Regions from separate parts of the Homo sapiens genome. Here region 1 is linked to region 2. The links come from fine-mapping of genetic effects on gene expression. A gene starts in region 2. The other region holds a variant in brackets. All regions are shown on one strand. Distances are between the middles of the regions. Region 1 overlaps MB21D2 (Mab-21 domain containing 2). Region 2 holds the start of MB21D2 (Mab-21 domain containing 2).

Evidence for each region. PIP is the estimated chance that this variant, and not a neighbour inherited with it, causes the effect.
Region 1: its variant is fine-mapped to the expression of MB21D2 in fibroblasts (GTEx, PIP 0.95).

What each region holds. Positions count from the first base shown.
Region 1 is chr3:192,790,066-192,805,474 of GRCh38, forward strand. It overlaps MB21D2 (Mab-21 domain containing 2), which reads right to left. Exons shown (of 2, transcript NM_178496.4): 2 at 6,750-9,585. The coding sequence ends at 8,321. Among named protein-coding and RNA genes, the nearest start is that of FGF12, 70 kb to the left of the region's middle. RefSeq lists an enhancer at 359-1,558. The variant C/T (reference allele first, on the strand shown) is at 8,179.
Region 2 is chr3:192,910,015-192,925,423 of GRCh38, forward strand. MB21D2 (Mab-21 domain containing 2) reads right to left here and starts at 7,842. Exons shown (of 2, transcript NM_178496.4): 1 at 7,616-7,842. The coding sequence starts at 7,826. RefSeq lists enhancers at 4,680-5,180, 6,808-7,137 and a silencer at 7,788-8,147.

The DNA.
Region 1 (15,409 bases), 120 kb before region 2:
GAACAAACTCCAGACGCGCCACCTTAAGAGCTGTAACACTCACCACGAGGGTCCGCGGCTTCATTCTTGAAGTCAGTGAGACCAAGAACCCACCAATTCCAGACACAATAGGAGATTCAAGATTTGAGCAAAGTCTGTGTAGACCAACAAGCTATAGAGACATTTCTTTATAAATAATTCTTTCTAGTGAGGCAGGTTATTCTATGAGGTCAAATTAGGCAGAAGAAATTTAGAAAAGCCCTTCAACATCCACTTGGCCTTCCATGTAGATAAATTATTCTTAATGGAGGTAGGGGGAGGGTTATTGCATCATGGTGTTTTAGAATTAGGAGTATGTGTAGCTTGAAAAACCACAGTCTCTAAATTTATTTTAAAATCCCCTAATATCTATAATTTTTATAGTACAAACCTCAGAAAGCTTGTCAAAATATTTTTGGCTGTCTAGTGGGAATACTTAGAAGATAGTGATTCTCTAACAAGTAACAGGAAAGTGAAAAAGGAGTGTCCAAAAGAATTAAGGATAGGTTGAAGCACGAGGTTTTTGTGTTGATCAAAAGATTTCAGGATATCTAAAAACAGAAATTTGAAAACAGAAATTAATGTAGAAACTTGGATGGGGTCTCTTCACCCACTTAATATTCGATATAATTGTTACTAACAACAATATAAGGAGACTGGGTCTGGGCATAGAACTATGTGAAACAAACAGGCAGGTGATGCCAAAATTCAGAAACTTTCTAGGCCAGGACCTTCACTGCTAAGGAAGCCATTCATAGACTGTTACTTTGTTATTTACTCTTTTTACATTTTGTTAGTTTCTTCTCCACACCATTAGCATAGAAAAACACAAGATGACTGCAACGTCAATATGACAACAAGGAATGATTCCGCTGGCTGGAGTCGTGCTGTGATCTTGTCAGTCACAGGATTCTGATAGGAGACACTGTCCCCAAAGGTTTCTACCACACGGAGAACACATGGTAGGTAGCAAATTTAAGCAGGTTATATACCCAACCTGGACTTACCTTCTTGTCACGCAAACCCCCAAATGGCTTACTTTTAGGATTCTCGTATAAAAAAGCTGAACAACACTGATGTGTGAATTAGTGAAGGTCAATGCTTGAGCTATATTTAAGGACCTGAGAGCCAAAAATAGTTTGTTTTCCAGTAAAATCCTTTTGTAAGCAACAGCTTATAAAATGTTACAATCACAGCTGTGCAGAGGGTACAGAGAGATCTGTGCCTATGACCACGAGATTGGCCTTGGAGAGGTCTCAGAATAATGATACCACTCTGTTGTAAGGAACGAGACAAGCAGAAGCAACGTCCTCTCATTTATTCCAACCTATCTGAGCACTCCCTGCCACTTCTGTCCATCTCAGTTTATCTACAGCCCCAGCCAGGATCTGCAAATCCCATTTAACCGTCATAGGTTATCATTGCTTAATATTTGTGTGTAGCTGTTGTCTTGGTGTTTGTTCTTTTACAGCTCTTCATGAAGGCTCTGAAGACAGGCCACACATCTCATCTTCAATTTACAAACGATGAGAGCAAACAAGACCCAGAAAAGGGAAAGGTTTGCCTAAAGTGTCATAGCTAATGTCAGAACCGTCTGCATCCAGGTTGTCCAGCCCCTTGTCTACACACTCACTATTGGTCCACAGGTTGCCTCAACCCGCCTTTCCTACCCACTACAGAACATTCTTCCTTCAACAGGTTCCTTTTCGGAGGACAGTCATTTGGTAAATTTCCACAATCATTATAGAAAGTACCTGCCCATCACCACAAAAGATCAGATGAGTCTGACTTTACTTTTAATCATTCTTATTATCTTGTGAGATGGGACGCTTCTTTAGATTTATTAATTCCCATAAATGAAGAGTTTGGCTCATGATAGCAGATTATTTGCTTTGGTCCTCCAAGCATAGGCTGTGTTGAGGCTGGAAGGAACAAGGATCAGAAACAAGCTGCTGTTTATCTCAGGGTAGCTTCAATTATCACAACCAAGGAATGCTGTCTTGCCTCTTGGGTCAATCACCTAGGGCATCATTCAAACCACACCTCACAGTCTTCAGTTTGGTGATAGTCTATAAAAAGTCGTTTGAGATTCCTATTTCTATTAAAAAAGTATTAATGTAAATGGTAAATTATAGATTTATAAAATGTAAGCAGTAAGATTTTGTAGGGGGTTTAGTCTACCAAAGTCTACAAATGCTCAGAATTTTTAAAAGATATCATATTCAAAAAATATTCAAAAACTCCCTCTAAATTACAGAAATACTGTTTTAAAAATACAAGTGGTCTATTTACATGTATTTCATTTTTACATCAAGGCCAGCTGAGCCATTAAAGTTGTCATACCTTTCATTTGTAGCTAATTCGTAAATACCTCTCTCCCTACATCTTTAAAAAGAGTAGTATTTTGCTAATAGTAACTAACAGTTCTTCTGCCTACTCCTCTGAGCTCAGAAGTTAAAATGATAGAGACATTTGGTCCATTTCCTTGCCCTAAACAGAAAATTTTCCATAAATGGTCATTTATCTTCTCTTAGCATTCTCTAAATGATCCATCTATTCTGCTGATGAAAAGCTCTGGAAATACTCAGGGTTCTGGTATCAGAACACAGTCCAAGGTTTACCTGTTATCTGAATGCAGGCCCCCCTATGCAGGCACATAATAGAATTTATCTTAAACAATAAAAACAGATTCTAATACCAGAGGCAGTATAACACAGAAGAAAGTTCTTAATTTTTGAAACAAACAAATGGGTTCAAACACTGACTCTGCCCTACCACTTAATTATCTATGTAATTTTGAACAAGTTACCTAATTCCTGAGTATTGAAGTTTAGACTTACCGTGTTTAGAGTTGTTGTGATACTTCAATAGGCTCATGAATATAAAGCATCTAGCAAGAACTGTACATGCAGGTGTTCAATAAATGTTTCCTGTGCTCCACTGTAGGTGTTGGTGCAACTTAGTAAGATTTTTAAAAATAATATTGTCAAAATGGATACTCCAAATGTGTAGATATATAAATCTAAACTTGAGACTAATTTGGAAACTGAGGCAATTTTAGTGAAAGCTAGAACAGCTACCCCAATCCATATTTTACGGATAAGGATATAAAATCAAAGAAACAAAATTTCAACTATATTCAAAGTTAGCCCCTTTTATCTTCTGTGATTAATTGGTGAGGCAGAAAATGGCAAGAGAAAAATATATCAATGCGCCCTCACCAAGGTCACATTAGGAGTCCATTCATCTTGAAAAGAGAGGGAGAGTGGTCCAGAGTGCAAACATTCTCATCTTAGCTGCCATACCAAATTAAGGCTATATATGTCTTTATACATCTTTGAACAACAGTGTATTTACATGATGGTTAATATTAGACTTTTCTGAGATTTCTTGCTTATTCTTAACCACACAAACCCAGTCATACGGTCTCTCTGATGATCGCTGAATGTCGAGACCCAACCGCGGAGAAAAACTGTCAATTCAAACTCAGAAAAATAGTTACATTAAATCAATATAAAATTTCAGTGTGATATAGGAAATGGTTTACGAAACATGCTGCTTTTGAACTTATTGCTAATAGCACTGGAAATGGGCATAAACTATTGTAAATTATTACAGCTTCAGTCCTAAAAAATAAAAATATATTTTTCCAGGTAATTAACATAAGGTAGAATTTTAGATATGTAATTCTCCATTGGTGAATATTTATTCTAAAGTGTTTAGATTATACATTCTTTGTTTAACTGTTGAAGAAATTATAGCATAAGAGTTGTTTTTTTTTTTTTTTTTTTTGAGATGGAGTCTCACTCTTGTTGCCCAGGCTAGAGTGCAGTGGCGTGATCTCGGCTCACTGCAACCTCCGGCTCCTGGGTTCAAGCTATTCTCCTGCCTCAGCCTCCTGAGTAGATGGGATTAGAGGCGCCCGCCACCACGCCTGGCTAATTTTTGTACTTTTTAGTAGAGACGGGGTTTTGCCATGTTGTTCAGGCTGGTCTCCAACTCCTGACCTCAGGTGATCCACCCGCCTTGGCCTCCCAAAGTGCTGGGATTACAGGCGTGAGCCACTGTGCCTGGCCAAGAGTTGCATTTTTAAAATTAACTGTTTTCCTCAAAGAGGGGCATTGATTACATCCCTGTAATAATCTAAAAAATACATTTGTATTTACCTGACATTAATAAAGAAACAGCAACAGAGATTGATCCCTATTCTTCCTTTAATATTAGTAGTAGCTAGTGCTCCATTTAATGACAGAAAGGCTTATCCTCTAGGCAAGACTGTGGGAGAGTGAAAGAAGTCTTTCCCAGATTCCTACCTGAAACAGTCATACCAACAGCCCCTTCAGTGACTCAGAGAAAGGTTCTGGAGAGAGCTTACCGGGATGGAACTTGAGGCACCTTCTCTAAAGACCACTGCTGAGCTTTGAAGCCACAGGAAGCCCCCAGACCCTGGGAGACCAACACCGCTGCTCAACACGCCTCCTGTTCCTTCCCAGCATTACCAGCAAAGGCTGAACTCCAACTCAGAAAATTCCTCTTGGTGAGGCAGTGATCTGATTCCAAACCACCAACGATTAGTTATGACCAGGGGGCTTAATTCTCCAAGGAAGTGCATTATAAAAGTCACCCCAAAGAAACCTCCAGTTGGTGATATAAAAATATGTGTGTGTGCTCACACTCATGTATGTGCGTGTGCCTGTGGTACACAAGTGACTAGGAGCTCCTAACGTCCTTTCCACTTTTCCCACCTCTCCACCCAGAAGTAAGATTAGCTACATATGCCTGCCTCTCATTTTCTCTGAAATAATTCTGTATAGTACTTTCAGAAATATTTTTTAAATGTCTGGTCCTGGCTCCACCCACTTCTAAACCAACCTTTACTGGCATCTTTGGATCTTCCATTTCAGAAGAGAAAGCCAGGGGACAGAGAATAACCTACTCTCAAAATAGGTGAAACCAGCCTCATTAGAGAACTGAAGGCCCGTTGAGTAATAGCTTGTAAATACCCCCCGATCAAAAAGTCAGCCATGAATAATGTTAAAATTATGACTCCAGCCTTAAGGCATTGTATTCTGTGCTTGAAACAGAAGTGATTTTAACCGATCTTCTGAACTTCAGGAGGACAGACTGGTTAGTAACTCAATGATTTGCTTAAATTTCAGATAAGAAAAGGTATTGGACTACATCCCATTTCTAGCCCTCTCAGCATCTGAGCCAAAAGTCCGAGGTTATAGTACCAATAGGAAATTCCAGGAATTTTTTAAAGGATTTTAAAATTACTAGAGCCCAGAGGCCTCTGGACCTTTTTCGAGACGTTTAACCAAGAATTTGTAGAGTGATCTTCACTAGGACTAGAAGTGGCAAAAACAAAACAAAACAAAAAACAAAACAAAAACAGGGCCAAGAGGATCTTTGAAACTAGTTTCTTTTTATGCCTGTAATGGAGTTTTGTCTGAAAACATGGCACGTAAAATATTGCAAATATTGCTAAGTGTATTTGAGACACTAGTTCAGAGAATAGTTATGGTCGTTTATAGCTTAAAGAAACAGCTGTTGTAATATGCTTGCTACTTTGATGGTTTACAACTATTTTAATCTACAAAGTGTAATGTAATGGTCAAAGTATCATACATTTTTAACAGGCTTTAGTAGAAGCATAATTATTATAGAGGCTATTTTTTTTGAATCAAATCAGATAGCATAAACCAGCTCTTAGATAAAATACACGGTAACCCTGATATCTGTCCCGAGAAAGAAAAGAGGCACACAACAACGGCAATAGTTTAAATATACTGAAGTAGTTTGGTATACCAGTTTAAATATTTTGATGAGCCAAATTCAAACTGGCTAAAATAACCCAAGTGTTGACTCATTTAACTAGAAAGTCTAGTGGAGATCTCAGATGTGGCGGGTGTGGTAGGTCATGTTTTAATTCCCAGCTCCCATAACGCCATCCAACGTCAGCTTCATCCTAAAGCTAGCTCTAGTCAAGATTGCGTGATACAAGATCAGAAAACCAAACGCCACATGTTCTCACTCTTAAGTGGGAGTTGAACAATGAGAACACACGGACACAGGGAGGGGAGCATCACGCATCGGGGCCTGTCGGGGGGTAGGGGGCTGGGGGAGGGATAGCATTAGTGACGGGTTGATGAGTGCAGCACATCACCCAGGGCACGTATATACCTATGTAACAAAACTGCACGTTCTGCACATGTAACCCAGAACTTAAAGTGTATTAAAAATAAATACACAAATAAATAAAGATCGTGTGATAGTTGTCAGTAGCAAAAGAATCCAAATGCTTTCTCCTCCATATCCAGGGAGAGTGTATGTTTCTGTCCCAGCATTCCAGTTTGGAACGCTGAGCGTGTCCCTGACTGGAGCGGCTTACATTCTGTGTCGCTTGTTAATGTTGTGGCCAGGGAGATGGTTTGTGCAGATCAGCTTTTCCAATTATGACGCGTTTTCAGCACTAGGGATGAAATCATTTCCTGAGAAGGACAAGGATGATGTGGCGGATAGACATTAGTAGTAAAACTGGGGAAAGAGGAAGACTGAATGTTGGTTGTTCACTATATGGACAACTGGTCCGAAAGACACTAGCAAGCCCATGGCTGTATTTATTGAAAATTGCTGTTAGTATAATACTAATAAGAAAATATACTAATATATAAATATACTAATATAATACTAATAAGAAAATAATTCCCAGATTACAAACAACAACAAAATTTCAAGGCCAGTATGTTTCTTTTTTTATTATTTTTGTGTTTGACTTAGATGGTTGAAATGTTTTCATTTTTCATTTATAAGCATTACATTAATTTCCATGCAAAAACCCAAGATCGCATATGTCTGATTTCAATTGGCCAAAATCCAACCCTTGAGTTTGGACATTCAAGACCAAAATGAACACGTTACTTGCCCTTTCTATGAGTAGACATCATGGGTGTCCTTTGAAAGATCAGCAGGCCTCCTGACCTCTTAAACACCAGCTTGCCATGAGTCCACACCAAAACAGGGAGCCAATACCTTCCAGCACCTAATCAGGCAAGTAACTTCACTCATGAAGACAGGACACCTCTATACCAAGGCTGCCACCCACAGATATTTCCTGGGTGCTGCTCTATAGCAATACCTGCTTTTGAACAGACGTGGTATCTTCTATTTGGGGATTATAAGTTCTTCCTGCCAGTTTTTCTCAAAACTCTCAGGAAGAGTAGAGATTTTACAAAAAAGCTTACCTCTATGACCCCAAAAGAAATAAATACAAAGACACCTACTTCATCAAGTGTATATTTTCCCCAGCTTTAGATGGGGTCAACATGTATAAAGCTTTAACAACTTCTCTCAGTAAGACAGGAACCAGGAATATCAAAGAGGGCAAAGCAGGACCCCACAACTGAAGGAGAACTAAGCAAATGCAAAGAATCATTTCACTGATAGAAATGGGCAAAATGAAAAAATGATAGAATTTCGAGAGTGGTTGTTAATTTATATTGAAACACACTTTGCAATTCTGACAATGGCAAAGATTAGTGCAAATAATAATTATAATGGTATGTTCTTTAATAGGATTTAAATAAGGCTTCAAATAATTACATATGCTAAAATTAACATTTGGAAACCTTAATTCTGCTTGGAAAACTGTCAAAGACACCCTTCAAACCACCCAGTGTTCTCTGATTTGAGGACAATTACATTCAATGAAGTTGCTCCAAAACACAATTTGTAGTATTATCACTTTCAAAGTTTACATTGTTTGGTGGAAAAGGGGGGAAACTACTCTGGTCACTGGCCAAAATAAATAAATCCAGCTAACATGCCAAGTAGTTCCCAGGTTCATATGATTCTCAAATATCAGTAGTGGTGAAAGCTCATAAGAAAAAAGACAAAAACAAAATAATAAAAATAATAGGATAGAATCGTTAAGCATCAGAAAGAGATTTGTTTCCCCATACCCATGAACAAATTTGCACCAAGTATGAAACAGAAAAAAGCAAGAGGATTCATGGGCATTTTCATCTATGGCTTAAGATCTCCTTAAAAAGAAAAAAAACTCCAACAAACTAAAGAGCATGACAATAACTACAAAAAGTAAACAACGAAATCAGAGGCAGAATATGAAATAGTAATATACTGTTTCAGAGCCTGCACCAT[C/T]CTGCAGAACCAGGAAACTTAAAATTTGTTCTTAACAAATCCAATCTAGGCTGGATATGTAAAAAACAGAAAGATAGCATCACAAACCACACGACACATTATCAGAGTTTAAGAATCAGGAAAAAAAAAAGTCAGCTAACACTCAGAAAAATTTGTCATCAATTCTGAAATGGGGCCTTGTGACATCGTCAGGATTGATAAAGACAGAGATTGACTTTCCCGGGTTCTCAGTCACTAGCTGCTGCAGTTTTTTTGCCAAACGGTCATCAGGCTGGTTGGGGTCCCCTCCGTCAGACTGTGGAGAGGGGATGCTGGTGGTGCTACCTCGCCTCTGGAGCTCCAGTGTCAGCCGGTTGGCTGCCTTGACATGCTCAATGGCGGTGCGCAAGTGCTCTGCCGGGTCTGAGCGCACAGAGGACAGCTTCCGGGCGTGAAGCATGACTGTCTCCTCAGACAGATGTTCCAGCATGTTGCACTGAGGGATGAAATAATTGGGGCACATCTTGTTGACCAGACAGTGTTGCAGGTCATCGATGAGGCCCAGCAAAAAGTGGGCTGCATAGTCTTCTTGAGCCAAGTAGTTGGCAGGAAGTCTGTCGCAGGCCCAGAGCATCATGCTCCGCAGGTGATAGGGGCTAATAGCCTTGGGCCGGGACAGCAGTTTAATGATGATGGCTTTGCAGGCCTGATAGGCCTGCATGAGGCTGCTGGAGATGCACTTCTTCAACTGCACCTCGCTCCTGGCAAAGGACAGCCGCCATTCATTGTCCTTCTTACCCTTGTAGGAGCAAGCAGGCACCAAGTAAAACCCACTGATGACCTCTTCCTCAGTAATCTTCCCATCCCAAAAGTGGTTCTCCATGAGCCAGCTCTGGGCCACTGCAGGCCAACCTTTGAAAGATACCACAGGGACAATATCATACAACATGCGACTACTCCCTACACCCAGAATGATGGAGATGATGGTCCCATTTTTTTCCACCTTTTCTACCTTTGGCATCCCTCGCTGGGGTTTCTTCTGTATTTCTGATAGGACAATGCTGATAGAGTCATAGAACCAGTCAGCCACTTTGGTAGGTGAGAAGAAGTAGTTGGTGGCACCATTGATGTGATCTACAATGGTGCAGCAGTCTTTCCATTTACTGATTGTCCCCTCATCAAAGAGCCGAAGGCTCAGCCAAGAGTGGCACAAGGCTGAGTGGCGCATGTCGAGTGTCACAGGCTGATTACGGTCATGCAGCTTGAGGGCTGGCACCAAGAGGGTAAAGTCCATATCATAGTCAGTACCCCGGGCATAGACATTAAGCTCATCTAAGTCCAGGTCCACCACGCCTTCCCGGACACCTCCAGAGAGCAACAGGTATTCATTAGCCACTGGAAGCTTTTGGTCCAGCTTTTGCACCATTCCTGGAAATAAAGAAGAAAAAAACAACACTATTACAGGAAACACAGACATAAGAGTCTTATGCATGAAACAGAATGCTCTGATGTTCCAAGAACCAAAACTCATTATCAGTACTAAATCAAATCTCAGGCTGCTGCAGAGACCTGGCCAACAGTACTTTCTCACTAGTGCTAGAATCCACCCTTTTCCAAATGCAAGAATTATGATAGATTTTTCTCTCTCAGTGTGAAAAGCAGTATCGTTTTCAATAATAAAACAGGGCCCCTCTTCCCCCAGTCATCATCTCAGTTAATGGAATTGCCATCCACTCAGTTATGCAGACTGAAAACCTCAGTACATTTCAACTCTTTGCTGCCCTTCTACTGCCAAATCTTTTCCATGGAACCTCTGCCAGGGTTTCTCACTTCCTTCCCTGTTCTCCATCTCTCCTGCCATCATATGAAGTTCGGCCTTTTTTATCTATTGCCTAAGCGGTTTTCTTTCCCCAGGCTCTTTGCGCTTACACTCTTCTTTGTACCAGCGGTTCTCAGTGTGGGCTGGAGACACTTTCAGGGGTAATGAGTTCATAACTCTCTTTATAATAATACTAACACACTGTTTGACTTTTTTTTTAAGAGACAGGGTCTTGCTATGTTGCCCAGGCTGGTCTAAAATTCCTGGCCTCAAGCAATTCTCCTACCTCGGCTTCCCCCAAGTGCTGGGATTACAGGCATGAGCTACCACGCCCAGTCTTGTCTGACTTTTTTACTGTGTTGCCATTGTACTAATGGCACAGAAACAAGGGAGGATAATATTGCCAGTGCCTTAGCAGCAAAGACACTGATGCCAAACTGTACTAGCAGTCAGTAGGTTCTTTACCACTGACATGCATTAGCAATTTTTTTTTAAAAAACCCAGTTTTACTTAAGAAAATCCTTGATGGAGAAGAAAAATAAGTTATTTTATTGAATCTCAACCTCTGAGCCATTAGAAAGACTATCTTCCTAATAGTCTGTGTGATGAAATGGAAATAACCATAAAACCCGTCTTCCTCATACTGAAATAGGAAATCTGTCTTCAGGAAAAGCACTCACGTAACTGAGTTGTGAGCTGAACTAGCCTCTTTGTTCATGGAACGCCATTTTTACTTTAAAGAACAACAGAAAACTATGGCTATTTAGATTTGGGTATTTGGTAGACATTTTCTTCAGAAATGAACAAAATGAGCCTGGCTTCAAGGAAACTACTGACAATATTTATTGCCAATGATAAAGCTGAAATTTCTAAGGGAAAATTAAATTTAGAAAACTCCGCACCATGAGCGTGACATCTTCTCGAATTGTATACGTTTCTGATTAAATTGGCGATGATATTAACAAATGTGATTTTTTAAGAGATTGTGGGTCCTTTTGAGAACCATGTCTCATGTATTAAGCAGGTATAGAAGACTCCGTGCATGCAGTAGGAACATAATTCAAGCTATGACTAAATGATAAGGGAAAAAATGCATGAAATTAATAGGTAGATAGCATTAATAGATGGAATTAACATAAATTCTTAAAGGCTAGACTTAAATGACTGTTCCATAAACAACATATACATTTTCCCTCCTTCATTATATACTTGCTTACGCTTGATTCTCTGACAAACTACCAGCGTCATCCTGTGATTTATTTAACAGTGTTTCCCCAAAGATCAAGACCTACCACAAAGTATTATAATATTCCATTATTCATTATAATTCATAGTTTGCTCTTCATAGGACAATCCCAAATCAAATAAACCATATGCCTGTGTTTTCTTACTATTATTGTTATACTCTGAACGTTCGTGACTCCCACTCACATGTTGAAATCCCAACTTTCAATGTGATAGTATTAGGAGCTGGGGCCTGTGGTAGGTGATCAGGCGTGAGAGTGGAACCCTCATGAGTGGGATTGGTACCCTTATAAAAGAAACCTCAGAGCGCTTCTTTACCCCTTCTGCCATGTGAGGACACAGTGAGAAGACAGCCATCTATGAACCAGGAAGCTGTCCCTCACCAGACAATGAATCTGCAGGCACCTTGATCTTGGCTTTCTTGACATCCAGAATGGTGAGAAATAAATCCCTGCTGTTTATAAGCTACTCAGTTTAGGTACTTTGACATAACAGCCTGAATGAACTAAGACAATTATACTTTAAAATTTAACGCTCATTTATTAAAATATGCTCTTTAAAATCCTATTTTCCAAACCACATTAACCATGAAAAAGTCTTTTATTTAGTACAATTCTTTACACACAGAAATATGGCAAGTTATCATTTTCTTTTTAAAACCGTAAGTTAGCCAACATTATAGTGTCAACAATTCATCAGAAAGAACATCCAACAAACCTGACTTCTTGGCTGTTTCTCACACTATCTGCACTGTGATACGGCATCCAGGTCCCTCTTCAATAAAGGACTTCCAGCTGCTTAAATGCTAGCCCTTAAGGATTGTCTCAGCTGCAAAGGGCTGTCTTAGCCAGGTCAGGTCCTGTGGCTGGGATGGGGGTTGCAGGTGCACATCCAATAACTGATCGGTGTGGGAGTGTCCCAGCTCAGGATACTCTGAAGGGCCACTCAAACTCTGAGTTCCCAGTGGGGTTGGCTGTGGCGAATGATGCGCCTGCAGGGAAGCTCAGCTTCTCCTACTTGAACCTGCTTCCTTCCCCACTTCGACAGGTGTAGATCCCAAGGGTGCTGCTTCATAAACATCCTAACTCCATTTCAGAGGCTGCGTCCTGAGAAACCCAACATACTACACTAAATACTATCCAAGCAAAACAGAAGATACTACCTACTACCCAAACAAAAACCGTCTTCAGCATGGAAAATATGTTTTTCCTTTTTAAAGTGTTTTCTTTTTTAAAGCCAAACTTAATCCGGATTGAAAGTTCTTATAAATGCCAAGACAAAGATCCATTTCTCAAATGTCATTATGTTTTAATATTAACCTCATCTTTGCCATGTAAAGAAATACTACCATCCCACGTTTTGGTTATTGCTTTAAAGGATAAAATTGATTTCTCAGATTCCAGATTAGGTTGTGAAAATCATTTTCATTATTTTATGAACTCACATGTTGGAACAGTCAGTTTCAGTGAGATATATTTGATAATGAAATCGTTTACTCTTCATTATTTCAAACATCCTTTCATTCTACCATTCAGAATACCATAAATATACGTGAGAAGTACTGTGAAATGCTGTGTTGTGGTTAGTAAATAAGATCTGAATCTATTAAAGTGATATTGTTATTTGAGTACACACTGTTGTCTCCTCTTAGGCGTAACTAACTCAAAATCCTATATATGCTTTTGTCCTGGACAGAAGCAAACTGGCTTTGAGCCCACCAACTAAGACTCGTCTATATAATCAGGGTAACTTGTGCATTAACAACCTGGAGATAATTTGTCTACAAAAGTGCCACTGAATTTTGCCTTGGATTGTTACAATCTTGTTTGGAGAGTCTTGGGTAAGCCATAGCTAAAACTCCCTTCTGCCCTCTGCTGGATTTAAGAAGTTTTAACCTGTTTTCACTTGTCAATATACACACTAGAAAATTCCTGCCAATGATAAAAGGTTCTCTTTCCTCTCAATGATGCTTATGCATCTCGTTAAAATGTTGACCCTTTATTCAAAGGAGTCAACATCAAGTATTTGGCTAAATTCTAATATTCAGGAGATAGGGTAATTTTGAACACTTCTTATTCCTTTTAAAGTGAAGAAAGCCCTTTAGTAGCAGAAAGAGTATTGCAGACACACATTTACTAAGCCCCTATAAGAAACAAAGTCCCTAAGGCCACACTGTTCCAGAAGCTAATCCCTTCCTACATCCACATTTCCATTTAGCCTCCCTGAGCCCATTAGTCTGCAATTTTACAAACGATATGGTAACAGAACTCGAGCCTTCCCCAGCGTTATACAAGCCCAAATGTCTTCCTTGAAAACTTTCCTGGGCTAAGTTTAAGTGAAAATGAGCTGACATCAGCTATCATGGCAGATGGGTTGCCATGCAACCAAAACACAGGGCTGGAAGGGAAAAAGACAGAGGAGGGAAAATTTTCAACTGTACGCTTTGGCTGTAGGGATCAGTTCCAACAAGTGCCATCTCTGCAATGATCCGAGGTTTTCTGTGTAATTACTGGAGGATAAGATCTAGTGACTCTGGCTGTTTAGCTGTTAGATTATCCAAAGCTATGAGTGGGAACAGAAGGAAGATGCACATACACCACTGAGCTTGTTAGCAGCAAAACAAAAAAGGAAGGATAGAGGATAGCTATTCCCTTGGGTGGGTCTCTTCTTTTCATGGAGGCACTGGCATATGCTTGTTCTTAAGTAAAACTGCCACTCAACCTCTTTTCCTGTAATTCACTGTTTCTTGGTTTTGATATATTTCAGAGTTTTTACTTAAGAATATCTTAATAGTACCCTTTTATATAGATACTCAGGTCCTAAGTTTAAGGAATGTGTTTCACGTCATGCTTTCAGTTATTTACTGATTATCTTTAGAATATCAAGTGAAAAATGGAACTCTGTCCCTGACTTATGTTCTAGTGAATAAAACTATATCATATTCCACTAAATTGAAACTGCAAACCTTCATCATGCAAACATATAATGCCAGATTGCTAATACTAGAGCACAAAAACTAAGTATGATTTCTTGTTGTCTTTACAACCCCACCCCAGTAAGTCTGTGAAAACTCAGAGAGTTCAAGAAATACTAAGTAGGTAAGTCAAAATAGTACCTGTATAGACTTCTTTAAAACAGATACACACACACACACACACACACACACACACACACACTTACATATGTTGAAGGGAGAAAGGTTTATAAAAGAAGTAAAATTTTTATGTCTTATAATTAAAGTTACAAAATTAGATAAATTTTATCTTTTTATATACCTTTGACTATATGCCTGAATATCTCAGTAATAGTCATTGTTTCATATAAAAGAGTTTCCTTTTTTAGCTCCAACTCATGTAGCACATACCAGTAACAAACAGTGCCTTATTCCAGCAGTGGGTTTTAATGGCAGGAAGGGTACACGGTGTGATGATGTTGACAAAGTCCTTCTTTCATTCTGATGCATCCCCTAGGGTAAGTCTCCTTGGTTGACAATAAACAATATAAAACCTTCCTATAAAAATATTATGGTTTATGTTTCCAGGGTGGAAGTATTTTTGTCAAGCTTACCTGACATTCTGAGGAACGTCTGAGATGTGGGCATAGCCACCTTTTTCTAAGAAAGTCACTAATCCATGAAATTCTTAATGACCCCAGTTGGAAAAGATTTTAGGCCTTTCCTCGTTCATGCCCAGAAATCATCTATCTGAAGAAAAAACTGGTTCCAAGAGGAGAAATCACTCATGTGGGGTCATACGGCCTTAGTGACAGATTACCAGCATTGTTGCATTCCAACATTTGCGCAAAGACCAGAATAACACATATGTCCTGATCTCCCCATGACAATGCACAATGGCTTAAGAGGGAAGTAGCAGAGGTCTCAGGGCAATGTGCCAGTTTTTCATTTTTATTGGTCAAATCTTTAGTGGGACCTGGGACAACTGGCAGAACATGTCTGACCATCCACATTTATCATAAAGAAGAATGGGCCTGGTCTGCCTTGATAGAGCCATTAGTATTCCCAAATAGACTGTAAGACCCTGGAAATACAGAAGACAAAAACGGAGCTTTCCAGTTTTTCAATAATATTCTGAGTTATTAGTACTCACAATTAGGATAATATGTTTTATATGTCAAAGAGTCTGCTTTATTTTGCATAATTTGAGACAACTGCATATAATTTTATTTTTT
Region 2 (15,409 bases):
AGTGAGAAATTGGGGTGTATGTTACATGACAATGTAGAACATGCAGAGACAGGAGGCGGCATGGAAAGGTAGGTAAAATCCTCAGAAGATGGCAAATAAGGTAGGTAAAATCCTCGGAGGTCACCAATGTGAGAATTCATTACTCCCAATTATTAAATAATAGAATAGAGGTGGGGCGTGGTAGCTCATGCCTGTAATCCCAACACTTTGGGAGGCCAAGGTGGGAGAATCACTTGAGCCCAAGAGTTCAAGACCAGCCTGGGCAACAAGACCACCATCTCTACAAAAAAAAAAAAAAAAAAAAAATTTAAAAATTAACTAGGCATGGCTGTGCTCTCCTGTGGTCCCAGGTACTTGGGATGCTGAGGTAGGAGGATCGCTTGAGCCCAAGAGGTCAAGGCTACAGTGAGCCGTGATGGCATCATTGCACTCCAGCCTGGGCAACAGAGTGAGACCTGTCATTCATACATATATACATAAATAACAGAATGTGCTCTAAGTTCTAGAAATGCATCTTCTTTGGAATAAAAAGAGATGAATGAAAGAAGCTAGGAAAACATCATTCTACAAGTTTCAACTTATAGCTCCTCTTTAAAATGTAGAGGACAGCATATTGATAAATTTACTCCTAATAAAAGAGCATGGATCCCATACCATCCCTGTTATGTAAATGTACACATATGTCTGGGTATAAGCATATGTATAACACAGATGTTTAGAAGAAATGTGCATCAAAATATTAATGGTGATTCAAGTTTAGGAGTGATTTTACTTTTTCCTTTGCATTTTCTATCATTGGAAAACGGGCAGAATTAGGCCCAACATAGGTTAGGAGACTTAGGGTAAAACACATACCACATAGTACAAAACAGAGCTGGTACAAGAACTCAGAAATTCCCTTTTCTCTTACTATATAAAAACTTTCAGATTCAGAATTGAATGCACCTGAACACATGAAGTACATATAATGATTAAGCCCAACTTATATATTTAGAAACTGAGGCTTAAAGTCTGAGTGACTTGCCCAACGTCACACAGCAAATGTTAATAACTGGAGATTCAGAGGTAAAATCTGGGTCTCTTGGTCCTGAGTGCAGAATATTGTCCTTGTTAAAAGCCAGGGTTTTGTATTCATCCTGACCCAGGTTAAGTCCCACCTATGCCACTCACTTGCTGGTAAACTTGGATGAATTCCTATATTTTTCTAATTCTAGGGTTCACCACAGTTTTTTTTTTTTAACCTCAAAGTGTAATGGTGATGATTAAATGATACAGTAAAGTCCTATTAAAACCTGTGACATAGTAAACACCCTTGTCTCACTCACTATGCCTTTTTGTCTCTGTCCCAGGTGGAAGAACTCCACTATTACTTTCCAGGAGCAGACAGACATTATCTGCTCATTAGGCTCAGCAGCTTGGTTCTAGTCTCAAAAGTCAACTGGGATCATGCTCACTGTGCCTAGAACAGAGAATGCAGAACATCAAGCCTAACACAGGACAGGATGTTGACATGCTGAGCAGCTTGTTGGGGGATCTCTAGGGAATTCGGATTCAATAGGTCTGAATGGGACCAGAGATTTTGAATTGTTAGAATCTAATATTTCTGTGAATTAAAAAGGGGCTCAGCCTAACTGTGAGCAATGTATTATCCAATGAGTGGCATGACAAGGAATGACAGGAAGACCCAGGACTGTCGACAGTTCTAGGCCTCTTCTCTCAAGGACGAAGGGCAGCCACTGCCCAGAACCATGGAGGGGGAATTGAAACCAATCCAAACTAGCACAAAAATGAATGTTTGGAGAGATCCCCTGCCCTGGATACATAATGTTCTCAGAGATAGAACAAACTTCCGAGATGATCCTGTGCACTCTACAGATGCAGCACATAGTGAATACAACTCTCGGGAACTTTCCAAGCACATGGAGGCCCATAAAACACCAACGCACCATAAATTTCCATGGTAAATCCTGCTGGGGGAATTCATTAACAGAAAAGTAGCAATCAAACACTGGAAAGGTAGGGCTTCAAAATTACCCACTCTGGAGATGTAGAAAGTGCCTAAAAATATGGTAGGTCCAGGAGCACCACACCAAGCATTTACATCTTTGAAATGGCCACATGGCACTTATTGGCCTGAAAGGAGAAACAGCCAGCAAAATATCCTGCTAGAGTTGGTGGGCAAAGGAAACAGGGGAGGGGTCCCTGAAGGCCCTTATGAATTTCTCAAAGTTTTTGTTCACCATTTTATCTTCAGAACCCTGCACGCTGATTGGCAAACACTATTACATTCATTAAGTATTTGTCAAATGCGTGAAAAAAACAGAGGGAGAGAAAGAGGGACAGAGACAGGAAGACAAAAAGAAATTATCTCAGGCGGGGCATGGTGGCTTACGCCTGTAATCCCAGCACTTTGGGAGGCCGAGGTGGGTGGATCACCTGAGGTCAGGAGTTCTAGACCAGCCTTGGCCAACAACATGGTGAAACCCCATCTCTACTAAAAATACAAAAATTGGCCAGGTGTGGTAGCGGGCGCCTGTAATCCCAGCTACTCGGGAGGCTGAGGCAGGAGAATCACTTGAACCCAGGAGGCAGAGGTTGCAGTGAGCCAAGATCATGCCACTGCACTCCAGCCTGGGCAACAAGGGCAAAACTGTATCTCAAAAAAAAAAGAAAAAAGAAAAAAAGAAATTATCTTTGCTCCTACAGACTAGGCAGGCTACTGAGTATAGTATGTCTCACCCAAAAGTGATGGAAACTGATTGCTACTACAGTAAAAGGAACATGAGCTTCTGAGTCAGGAATAACTGGATTCAGTCTCCAACTCTGAATGATCTTGGCCTAAGTTCTTGACTTCTTTCTTTGAGCCTCACCATTTCATCTTTAAAAAGGGTAACAACACCTATTTCACTTCCAAAATAGGCATGATACTTATGCTTACAAAGTTGTGGAAAAAAGATTACATGAGCTAATGGACTTAGGCAAAGTAGCTAGCACAATGGTCAGCACATGGTATGAGCCAAAATCCTCCTGGGCTACCCTAATTGTACTGCATAGTTCTTTCAGATGTCAAGCTGCAGAAATAATTCCAATTTAAGTTCACTGGATCTTCTAAGAAAGTATATTTTTATCCCAGCACTCTGGGAGGTCAAAGCAGGAGGATTGCTTGAACTCAGGGGTGTGAGACCAGCCTGGGCAACATGGCGAAACCCTGTCTCTACCAAAAATACAAAAAACTAGCCAGGCGTGGTGTTACACGCCTGCACTCCTAGCTACTTGGGAGGCTGGGGTGGGAGGATCACTTGGAGCCCAGGAAGTAGAGGTTGCAGTGAGCTGAGACTGTACCACTGCACTCTAGCCTAGGTGACAGAGCGAGACCCTGTCTCAAATAAATAAATAAACAAACATTTATTTAAATAATAAACTCACGTATATATTCTTTTTTAGTTAGCAAAGTAATTTCACATTCTGACATAACAGTTCTGAAAAACAATGCTTACTGTTATCCATGTTTAATAAATGAAAAAACTGGCCAGGCATGGTGGCTCATGCCTGTAATACCAGCACTTTGGGAGGCCAAGCCAGAAGGATCACTTGAGGCCAGGATTTTGAGACCAGCCTGGGCAACATAGTGAGACTCCATCTACACAAAAATTTTAAAAAATAAAAAATTAGCTGGGCACGGTGGTACACATCTCTAGTCCTAGCCACTAGGGAGGCTGAGACAGGAAGATAGCTTACGCCTAGGACTTTGAGGCTGCGGTGAGCCATGATCATACTATTGCACTCCAGGCTGGGCAACGGAGCAAGATCCTGTCTCAAAAAAAGAGAGAGAAAATACTAAGACCACAAAGCCAACAAGAGGCAGACTGGGAATGAAACTATAGATTTTAACATTTTATTATAATTACTATGATTTTCTCAATCAAAAATTCAAATAGGAGATCTTATTATAGAATACTTGAACTCAGACTGTTCCAGAAATCTACTTATATTACGCTAAAACTTATAGCTAAAATCGAAACAAAATCCTGAAAGAAGTGATTTTTTAAAACAAAGCCTTTCCTCTGGATTTTATGCATCTATTCTTAATAGTCTCAAGTAGGAGAAGAGGAACATGTTTTAGAGTAAGGCTGACCTGAGTTTCAGTAGCATCTCTACCATCTATTAGCTTTGTGACCCTGGATATCCACTTTCTTCACCCCACTAAATTTCAATATCTTCATCTATGTAATGGGAAAGCAATACCTCCTCAAAAGTCTATGTGAAGTTCCTGGCCCTGAGAAGATGATTAGTAAATGATTAACTACCGTAAAAATCATGCCATGGTACCGACCACTTGGTCTGTAGGTTAGGTGACGGCTTGTTTCTTTCCTGCCTTCTCCAGCATCTGCATACCCCCTTTTCTGCATCTGTTCAATGGGGACACAAACCAGTCTCTATCGAACCTCACCAGGGAATGAAGATAACAAAAGAGCTGGCAGAGACATTATGCTAATACCAAATATTATTAAAACATTAATGAACTCTGGCAATTTCCCTGAATTTTGATAAATGGTGTTTATTATGCACTGCCAGCCTTTCGCACAGTCTGGGCTCTCAAATATTAACTAGATAATAACACCAATCATTCTCCTAAAAGACCAAGGTACAGAGGAATAAGAAGTGAATCTAGACAATTGCAGCTAACACCTGCCTCCAAAAAAAAATCAGAATCTCTGTACAAACAGAGAGCATCAGGACAGACCCCAGAGACCACAGTGACCACCAGCAAGCTCAGATCAACCCCACAGCCTGTGCAGAACCCTACTTTGATAAGACAGTGGAGTGTCTTGGTGTTGACAGGTCATTGATTATGACAGCTGTCTACCACCTCCTTGCTCTTCAGTGTAAAATTCCTCCAAACTAGACAAAATGAAAAGGATCTGTGAAGCTGGAGGGGCTTCAGACTTGGCTAACAATCTTACACAAAAAGAGAGTAACATGCCTCACCCCTGCCAACTGCCTGAAACATGAGGCAGTATTTTTCTCAGCTCCACTAAAGAGGCTTGCACCCAATTCGTGGTTGGCCACTTCATTCTGTGTGAGGGGATAATATCTGTAAGCTGCTAACAATCCCCAGGTGCAGCTCAGATACAGAACAAAGCCAAGAGGACTGGCCACCCTCCACCCCCCCGCCCTGAAATGAGGGCCTGGTACCACCCAAGTAACACCTTAACAAGCTAGGGGTCATTAAGAGACTTCATTTGCATAGTCATCAAAGAACCAAAGCTATGGCAAGTGAAACAAAGTGTATAAAAAAAATGATTTTGTTCTTTAAGCCAAGCCAAAATCTGCTTTAGAAAAAGTAAATCCACATAGGAACCCTTGCTGTCGCCAAACCTCCACTTGTGTAGAGCAGCCAGCATCTCATTAAAGGAAAGCAAGGAACTCGCAAATGAATGCAGCACCACACACAGGCAAGCAAGCTCATTTCGCCATCTGCCTTCTAGTGTCCAGAGGGGCAAAAGGCTTAAATGACACTCTCTTGAATCTTCTCTCCTGCAGGTGGAAATGCTAAATTCCCAGGGGGCAAGAAAGACTGCTTGCAAGGTCAACTGGGTAAAAAGGAATAGAAGCAAATCTAGTTTACCTGTCAACACAATGCCACCCATGGCATTAAACACATGCAAAAATTAAGCACCCTAGAATAATTTACTTTTTTATATTTGGATAAAAGCTTTGCTGATTCAGTGTATCAGCTTTGGAGTTAAGCACAGAAGTTCCTCATGAGCCAGGCACTTAAATTTACCCTCCCTACATTATCCCATTTCCTGACCCATGACTACCCTAACTGGTGGTGACCCAGTACCTTCTTCTAGTAAATGACCTACGCAAGTGACATCAGAACTGATCTGGGGGCTGTATTAACACAATGGCAGACTTCCATTATTTATGCCACAGAGAAAGGCTATGATTAACTAAACAACTTAAGTAACTGCGCTCAGCCTTCTGTGTGTGGCCCCACCTTCCTGACAATCACTGTGTTGGCTTTTGGCTTTGTAAGCATTTTAGGCTTCCCTGTGGAAGCTCACTCCTACCAGGTTTTATATATATATATATATATATATTTAATTCATCTATTCATCTACATAGTTGAACGGCTGAATCTCTCAATAGTTTTTCAACCTCATACGCAACGTAAGACACACTTGAAGAGTGCGGCGCAAAAGGTAAAAACCAGCCTAGAGTTTTAACATGTTTCATCTAACTTCCCAACGCGTGAACAACTACCAGCGGACACAGACACGTTCAGTCTGTATTACCCCGTCCTTGGGCAGTGAGGAAGAAGAAAACCTAGAAGGAAGAAGGTATCCCAGGATAGAAGCAGCAACAGCCGGCTGAAACCCAATTAGATTGCAGGAGAAAGAGAAAAGCCCTGTCTTAGTCTGTGGCCAAAAGACCTTTCCCAATCAAATTTTTCAACACCTGGAAAATTGGCTTATCTATTTGTAGAGAGCACCCAGAGACGAGCGTTAGAGCAGCGCTACCCTGGAGTACCAGTTCTTCGGAATGTTGACCGCCGGCCACGCACCGCTTGACAGCCACGGATCCGCTGGCGGAGCCGCAAGTTACAACCCAGGCGCCTGGCAAACTCACACTACACCTCAGTAGCAATAATCCCAACGGCAGGACACCTGGGGAGGGTGGGCTCGGTCTCCCGGGCCTGGCTCAATTATGTTCCTTTACACAGCATTCAATCATGTTTCAGGAGCCGTAGGTGAGGGGCTGGAGGTGGGAGTGGGGGACACATTTTCTAGCCCCCGACGTCTCCGCGGTTGGAAACTCTGGGCACCTCTTTCGGCCAGCGCTAAGACAATACACAAAGAGCAGGGAACCGGCGCTCCTCTGCGGCCAGAGCTCCGCGCCTAGTCACGGAAGAGCTGGGAATTAAGAATTCCGAGCTCAGCGAGAGCCCTGAAGAAGCACCGGAAATGCTTCCGATCGCTTCATAAGAGAAGTCAATTTGCAAATCAAAGTTGCAGGAACTCCGGACGCCTAGACTACTTCAGCGGGTTACTCGGGAACACCCAACAAGTTTGGCCACCGGGGGCTCGGCATGACAGCGCCGCGCCGCGAGACGACAGAAGCAACTTGTCGCTCGGGCGCCAAGCCAGAGCCCTGAGCCGTCTCCGCTCCCAAGCTCGGGAGAGCACCCAAGAGCCGGCGTCGGGAAAGCGGAGGTCCCTGCCTCCGGCAGCCAAATCCCTCAACTGAAGGCACCTCAGGGGCTCACCTGGACTGCACTCGCTTCCAGGGGCTTCCCCCAACAGTGCAACGCTTCACCGCGAACGCCTCACCTGCCTGCCAGCCCCAGGTGGCGGAGAAATTAACAAAAGAGCAAGCGAACAGGGGGAAAGGGAGACCCGGCGTAAAGTATAGTAAGGAGGGGAGGGCAGGCAGCTCGGCTTTCGGCGGAGAAAGAAGAGAGAGGCGGAACAGAGATGGCTTATACCCAAGGCACCGGCTCGGGAAGGCAACCCAGAAGGGAAGAGGTCGAGAAGCGGCAATGGGTTTTCTACTCCGCTTCCCATCACACACACACACGCACACACACCTCCCCCTTTTTCCTCCTTACCCAGCATGGAAAAGATGAAATCCTTGGCTGTGTGAATCTCCAGCGCTCTCTGGTCGTCGTATTCCCGCTGGTCGTGCTTCGTAAATTCTTGGATGAGTTTGTTCAATTCCTCCACCCGAGCTCCCGACCTGAAATCCAGCTCCGGGAACGCAGGCTTGTTGTTACAGCCCAGGGAGGCTGCCTTGTTGGCGGTGGGAGCCGCCATCTTCATGCAAAACGCGCCGAGTAGCAGCTCCGCGGCAGCGCGGCACCCACCCCCGCCCCCCACCCCGCCCCCCTGGGCCTCCTCCCCTCGCAGGCTCCCAGGCTTTGGCCCCGGCTCGTGGGCGGGTTGGCGGGCGGGCGTCTGGGCGGGCAGTCCCCCGCTCCGTGCGCTCTGGGCGTGCGAGCTTCGGGAGGAGCTGGACTGCAGCGAGGGTGCGTGTGTGGCCCCGACACCCTTTTCTCCGGCCCCACGCCCGCCCCGATGCTGCGCGTCCCTGCCCTGCCCTGGCCCTCTCTGGCAGCGGCAACGGCGGTCGTAGAGCCAACTGGAGCCTCCCCCGGGCGAGGAAAGTGAAGTGGAAACAATGTGAAATTCACCAGCTCTGAAATCAACAAGCTGCCGGCTCCGGTGTTACGGAGCCAGCACCAGCGTCTCCATTTAAAGGGACAGCGCACCCAGTGGAAAGGAAAATAAATAAATGACAGAGGTCTGCACGCATATACCACTTGCCAATCCGTACTTGGGAAGACGCGCGAGGTGTGGATGCATTCTTTCTCCACCTCCACGGCCGTCCCCCCATCCCCTTTCTGGGCAGGGTTTGCCAAGCGCATTCAAGGAGAAGAAAGTCTTCCTCCGTTTGATTTTAAGGGCGGTGTCCTGGGGGAGGACATCTCTGTGCGCGTTTACCTCTCTATCCCAAGAACTCCAATACCTTTAAATAGTAAAGGAAACTGCCTTAAGGAATATGAAACCTGTCTTCTACCCTTTTCCTCTTGGATTGCCAAGATGATAGGATTGAGCGTATAAAAAAAGAGGGTCCACATCTAACCCAGTATTGGCACTCCCACTAACCCCTAGATATCCCTACCTTTGCCCAAGGTAATTAATGACCTGAATAACAGCTTATTTATCTTAACATATAATGAGTTAATGAGATTCAACCTACTCTAATATAAAGATAGGGAAACTGAAGTGTGGGTGTGGGAGAGGGGAAACAATGTATTGCCCCAGGTTCCAAGAAATGTTGGATGACAAGATGAAAATTTTCTCATTCAACAGATAAAATTTGAGTACGCACCATTTGCCAGATGGAGTGACAGAATGTGACAGTGATAACCAAAAGACATGGCTCCTACCATGGAGTTAGGCTTACATGACAAGGCAGGTTCAATCTAAGTCATAGTCCTTTAGGCAGAATAGAGTCTCAGAGGTGGTTTTAGTGTTTATGGGGTGTATCATTCAAACACTTAGGAGGCCCATTGGCTGTGAGAAACATAGGTTATCTTCCTCCCTAATTCTCCAAAATCTCTCTTCTCTATCCCACAGTCCCTGATTTAGATCAGGTCTGTTTCACTTTCTTACCCGAGTTCTCATGGCCAAGAATACAAATTGTTTTGTTAGACATGGAAGGAAGTACGGACTCTTCCATGCCTTCCCCTATAAAATGGGAATAATAATTCCTGTCTCACAGGTTGTTTTAAGGATTACGTGAGATAAAACAGGTCAAGCACTTAGTTCAAGGACTGACATAATAAGTACTTAGCTATTATCAGCTTCTACTATTATTGTTATTAATTCTTTCACTGTTCCTCAATCTAGTAACAACTTGTTGCCAGAGTGATCTTTAGAAAACACAGACCTGACCACTGACCTCCCCCTGGAATTCCTCTCTTCTTTACTCCGTTTACACCAAAACCAATCCGCGTCTGCCTTTTTCTTACAGCTTTCCGGAGACCCTCCCCTCAAGCTGGTGGCAACTTTTCCTTCCTCAGAACCTACTCTCAGAAGCTTTCATATGATGCTAATGAATTTTGACCTTGCTTCATCATTGCTTTTTGTTTTGGGTTGTGTGTGTGTGTGTTTGTTTGTTTCTGAAACAGGGTCTTCCTCTGTAGCCCAGGCCAGAGTGCAGTGGCACAATCGTGGCTCACAGCAACCTCAACCTCCTGGGATTAAACAGTCCTTGCATCTAGATCTCTCAAAGGGATTACAGGCGTGAGCCACCACACCTGACCACTTCATCATTGTTAATGCAAGTTTTAGACTAAAAGATTCTTGGGGATGAGGGCTACATCTTATTCATCTTTGTATTTCCTGCAGCATATGGTCCTACCGAAGGGTCCTCTATGTTTATTGAATCAAGTAATGAGTGAAGAATTGTGGCATAACCAGTTAATTTCTCTTACTTTTCGTTTCCTTCTCTTTGAAACACACTTCCTCACCCACTCAGTATGAAAGAGAGAGGATCCATGCCTAGATAAATGCTGGTGGACTGATGAGGAAGTGACTTAAAAACTCTGGTTTTTAGGCAGGGCGTGGTGGTTCACGCCTCTAATCCCAGTACTTTGGAGGCCGAGGCGGGCAGATTGCCTGAGCTCAGGAGTTCGAGACCAGCCTGGGTAACACGATGAAATCCCATCTCTACTAAACATACAAAAAATTAGCCAGTTGTGGCGGCGTGCACCTGTAGTCCCAGCTACTTGGGAGGCTGAGGCAGGAGAATTGCTTGAACCCAGGAGGCGGAAGTTGCAGTGAGCCGAGATCGCGCCACTGTACTCCACCCTGGGTGACAGAGTGAGACTCCATCTCCAAACAAACAAACAAACAAACAAACAAAGCAAGCTCTGGCTTTCGCAGCTCTGCTATGCTGCCCTGACTTCTCATCCTGAGAGGATATTAACATTACCTGGGCAGTACTAGAAGCCACATAAGTGTTTGGAACTCCAGCACAAAGTGATCCACTCCCATCTGTCAGTGCTTCACTAGTGATCAATGGCAGGCACCTGTGCGACAGCTGGCTGAGGCAGTCATTCCATAGAGCAGAATGGTTCTAGTTACCTCCAAACCATGTACAGTTAAGAAATACTTCAGACAACAAAATCGAAACACTTTTTATTTGTTAATTTCCAAACATATGAATGAGGCATCACTAATCTTCCCTTAATTTTACCTTTTCTTATGATATTTATATCCATAAAGAAACAACAGGTTGTTAGCAGAAAGTATTCCTGTTGTGCCGTAGTGCTGGACCCTGGGGGTTTGAATGAGTGAGTGGTCTCTCTGATGTTCCTCATTGTCTGTTCTCCTTCCCGTCAGCCAGATCAGATTTCTATGAATCATGGACCCTCAGTGAGCCCGCATATCCAGATAATGTAATTGGATGGTAAACTAACACCTTCCTAGGCTCTAATAGAACGCTGATAAGATTGTGTCAATATCCCTTGTTGAATTAGAAGAATAGAGAAAAACGATCAAAAACCATAATTTCCTGAATTGATCTATTGGGAGACTTTTTAACCTCTGAGCTTCTCAAGGGCAAGTACTGTGTTTCTTCACCTGTGTAAACACTGCATTTAATTTAGTTCTTGACCCATCTTATGACCTTAGTTTATATGTTCAAATGAATATATAAAAGAATGAATGAAGCCGGGCACGATGACTCACACCTGTAATCCCAGCACTTTAGGAGGCCAAGGCGGGCAGATCACAAGGTCAGGAGTTCAAGACCAGCCTGGCCAACATAGTGAAACCCCATCTCTACTAAAAATTCAAAAATTAGCTAGGCATGGTGGCATGCACCTGTAGTCCCAGCTAGTTGAGAGGCTGAGGCAGGAGAATCGCTTGAACCCGGGAGGTGGAAGTTATGGTGAGCCGAGGTTGCACCACTGCACTCCAGCCTGGGCAACAGAGGGAGACTCCTTCTCAGAAAAAATAATAATAAAAAAGAATGAACTAATACCATCCCTCAAAGTCCAAGAAGTCAGAATTTAGGTGATTTTTGCTACAATTTAAATATCTCAATGTAAGCTATCTATGGTTTCCCAGTATTTAGTTAAGTGTTGTTATAAATGTAAGTATTTCTGCATGCATTTAATTAAATGCCCCAATTTTTATGCCTTTTTCTCCCTGTGTATGTTATATGACCTAAGAGAAGGAAGAGAGATAGAGAGGAAGGTGGAGAGAGAGAGAAAATCATTATTAGAAGATGTTAAAGAGTGTCTGAGGCTTGAATAAAAATGCATATCTCTAGAATTTTGACAGATGGACAAAGGTCAGTGGAGTCTACCATCTAAACAAGCACTAAGGTAGGCTTTTCCTTTGCTGGCTCTTGCAGCATCAAACAGAACAGAGTAACAGCCTGCATTTCCAAACTGCTGTCACACTTAGAGGTAGAACTTGCCCTTCTACTCCCAACTCCCAAATTTTATTAGCATGTGAAAGAAGTCTTCATCTTGCTTCTCTGGAGCTGTTTGTTGTTAAATACAGCTCTGAAGTTCTGTGGCAAACTCTCAGCCATGAATAACTGGGCTGTGCAGAGCCTGCATTAAAAATAGCAAGCTCCACATCCACATGATGGATTAACAAAATATAATTTTAAACAAAGATTCTCTGGTCTGAGGGAGATTTAAATAGCAGCCTAGGCTACAAGATCTGGCCTTCTTGGGCAGCTGGATTTTCAATAAAAGTCTAACAAATGGAAGTGGCCTGGGTTTTTTATGATTTGAAATGCAGGCAGGAAAAAGAGAGGCAAACATCACAGACGTGTGGAATGTTGACAGTAGAAGGAACTTAGATGATAAATTCCATCTACCCCCCTTATTTACCAGATGGGAGAATGAGGGCACAGAAAGAGAAGGGAAACTTGACTAGATAGTAGAGACAATTCTGTTTCTATTTTTCATACTAACTTTAAATTTACTAAATATTTGTTATTGTGTTTCCAGACTGCCAGAAGGAACATGAAAAATGCCACGAAATTTGATCAAAATTATAATTTAAAAAATAAAAATAAAAACAGGAGAGTGGCCCTTGGGCAAAATGCACTCATTTCACTTGAAGTTAAATCTCAGTAAACCAGAAACTGCTGACATTTGGAATTACTTGGCTACTGATTTTTCCTGGCAATAGGTAGACAATCAAGACTACAGCTAAATCTCTTTGGTAGTCATAAACAGAGGTGCGCACGTCCCTGCTTGGGGCAAATCGGGCACTGTTACTTCTAATGAGATTAGGCCGTTTAATTTTTTTTTTTTTTTTTTTTTTTGAGACGGAGTTTCGCTTTGTTGCCCAGGCTGGAGTGCAGTGACACCATCTCAGCTCACTGCCACCTCCACCTTCTGGGTCCTGATTCAAGCAATTCTCCTCCCTCAGCCTCTGGAGTAGCTGGGATTACAGGCACACACCACCACACCCGGCTAATTTTGGTATTTTTAGTAGAGACAGGGAATCACCATGTTGGCCAGACTGGCCTTGAACTCCTGACCTCATGATCTGCCCACCTCAGCCTCCCAAAGTGCTGGGATTACAGACGTGAGCCACCGCGCCCGGCCTTAGGCCATTGAAATATTAGCGAGGTCCCCAGAACAATATAAATAACCCTCTCTATTCAGACTATTCAGTCCTAATAAAGTGAGGCCCATGTGAAGCCCACCTGCTCTGATGTGTTCACATGGTTCAGAGGGCCTAGTCCCAGCTTCTCCCTCAACCCTGTATCCTCATAACCTTGAGGGCGTGAGTGATCTAGCTATGGAGAAAAGTGCAGCAATGTAAATCTCTCCACTCAGTCTCTCATTTTATTCTCTGCTCTCTCTCTCTCCCCCAACCCTGTACTCTAATGACCTTGAGGGCGTGAATGATCTAGCTATGGAGAAAAGTGCAGCAATATCAATCTCTTCATCCAGTCTCTTGTTTTATTCTCTACTCCTGCTATACTCAGGGAAGCAAAATCTGTGCGTGTGAAAAGAAGGAAATGAACTCTAGGGATGGAAATAACAATATCTGATAGCAATTATTAACAATTCCTCCTGATAATAGAGCACTTTACAGTTCAACAAAGCGCTCATCACAAAATTCATTTATCGGTTCCTCACAGCCTCTTACTGAAGCAGGTTAGTGAGGACTATTATTATTTTTTGCATTTTGGAAATAAGAAACTAAAGCTCAGAGAGATAGTGAAGTTTGTGGCTAATTGTCATCCTTCAGCTCTCTATTTAGATGTCATTTCCTTGCAAAGAGCTTTTTCTGGATCTCCTCCACCCCCACACACCCAGGTCTAGGTCAGGTAAATTCCTTTGTAGACTCTCCTTCCCTCTGGACTTACGTCACTGTTCGTTCTCACACTTCCTTGTATCTGCCTGATAACTTTCCTGTTTCCCTCACAAAAATGTATGCAACACTGTCTGTCTTGATCACAGATGTATCACCAGTACCTCTTACTGGATGTGTAGAACATAGTAGATATTCAATAAATGTTTGATTAAAAAGTAAATGCAGGCTCAGACCCCAAATTTGAGTCTTTTGATTTACAATCCAAGTTCTTTCCATGAAACCTCACTGAATCTGTTGTTAGCACCCATTGAGTATACAGAAAAACACCAATAATCTCTCACATTTTAGAGAATGGGTACGCTTTATCAGCATTTCACATACACAATCTGATTCCAAATTTTGATTCAAGTTACCTTACTGTAAACAAAGCCTTTTGTTCCTCTTCTCTCTACCTTAAAATCTAAGCTCAGGCCCTTTGCTCAATAAAGTTTACGACAAAATAACTTTAAAAATTAAGTTCATATTTTCAATTCTTCTCACTTTTGGGAAAACCCATTTGACTTAAACTCTACACATCAGGTAAGAAAGGGCATAGTAATAATTGCAGGTAATTTAAAATAACTCGAAAAATCCTCTTCGCATATTACGACTGCCTTAACCCCATCAGCTGTTCTGGTGAAACGGTGGGGCCCTCATAACCAATCAATCCGTTGATACTGTTACATTTTGTTCTGGCCCTTGAACTTGCCAAAAGGCCCTGTTCTGGGTTCTCCACACCAATCCGTATCCTACTTTACATATACTCTGGGTACTGGATCGAGTGCCAAGGATAGACCATAATCCTTTGTCATGGGAAAAGTGGAGCTGTTTGGCTTGCTTTGCTGTGGTCAATTAGTTAATTAAATATAAATTAATTTAGTTTTTTTTTCTCCTATGTGGCTTCAGAGGGTGGAACCAGGAGGGATTGATGGCAGCTACAGACATAAAACTTTGACTGAGGATGTGGAAGCATTTTCTCACAATGAGAGCCACTGTGCACTGAATAGGCTGCTTTATGAATTAGTAAACTCCCCATCACAGAAGGTGTTCAGGGCTGTGTTATCCACCCATCAGGGTTATGCTAGGTTCCTAAGTTAGTAAAGAGCTGAGACTATGGCCTCTGAAATGTCTTTCAACTCTGAGAAGCTCTGACTCTATGATCCATTTTCAGTTAACAGGAAAACTGAAAACTAGCTTCCTACAAGGAGTCACTCCATGACAGAGCTATGTTCTGCACTAAACACAAGGTGTTTGAGATCTATTTTCATGTAAGGCCCAACGAAGATCAAGGATTATGTCTTTTATTTTTCTAGGCTTAAAAATACATATTTCCTTGTTTCTGGCTTTTGTTTTCTTTTTCTTTCTTTCTTTCTTTTTTTTTTTTTTTTGAGACGGAGTCTCCCTCTGTTGCCCAGGCTGGAGGGCAGTGGCGCGATCTCGGCTCACTGCAACCTCCGCTCCTGGGTTTAGGCCATTCTCCTGCCTCAGCCTCCCAAGTAGCT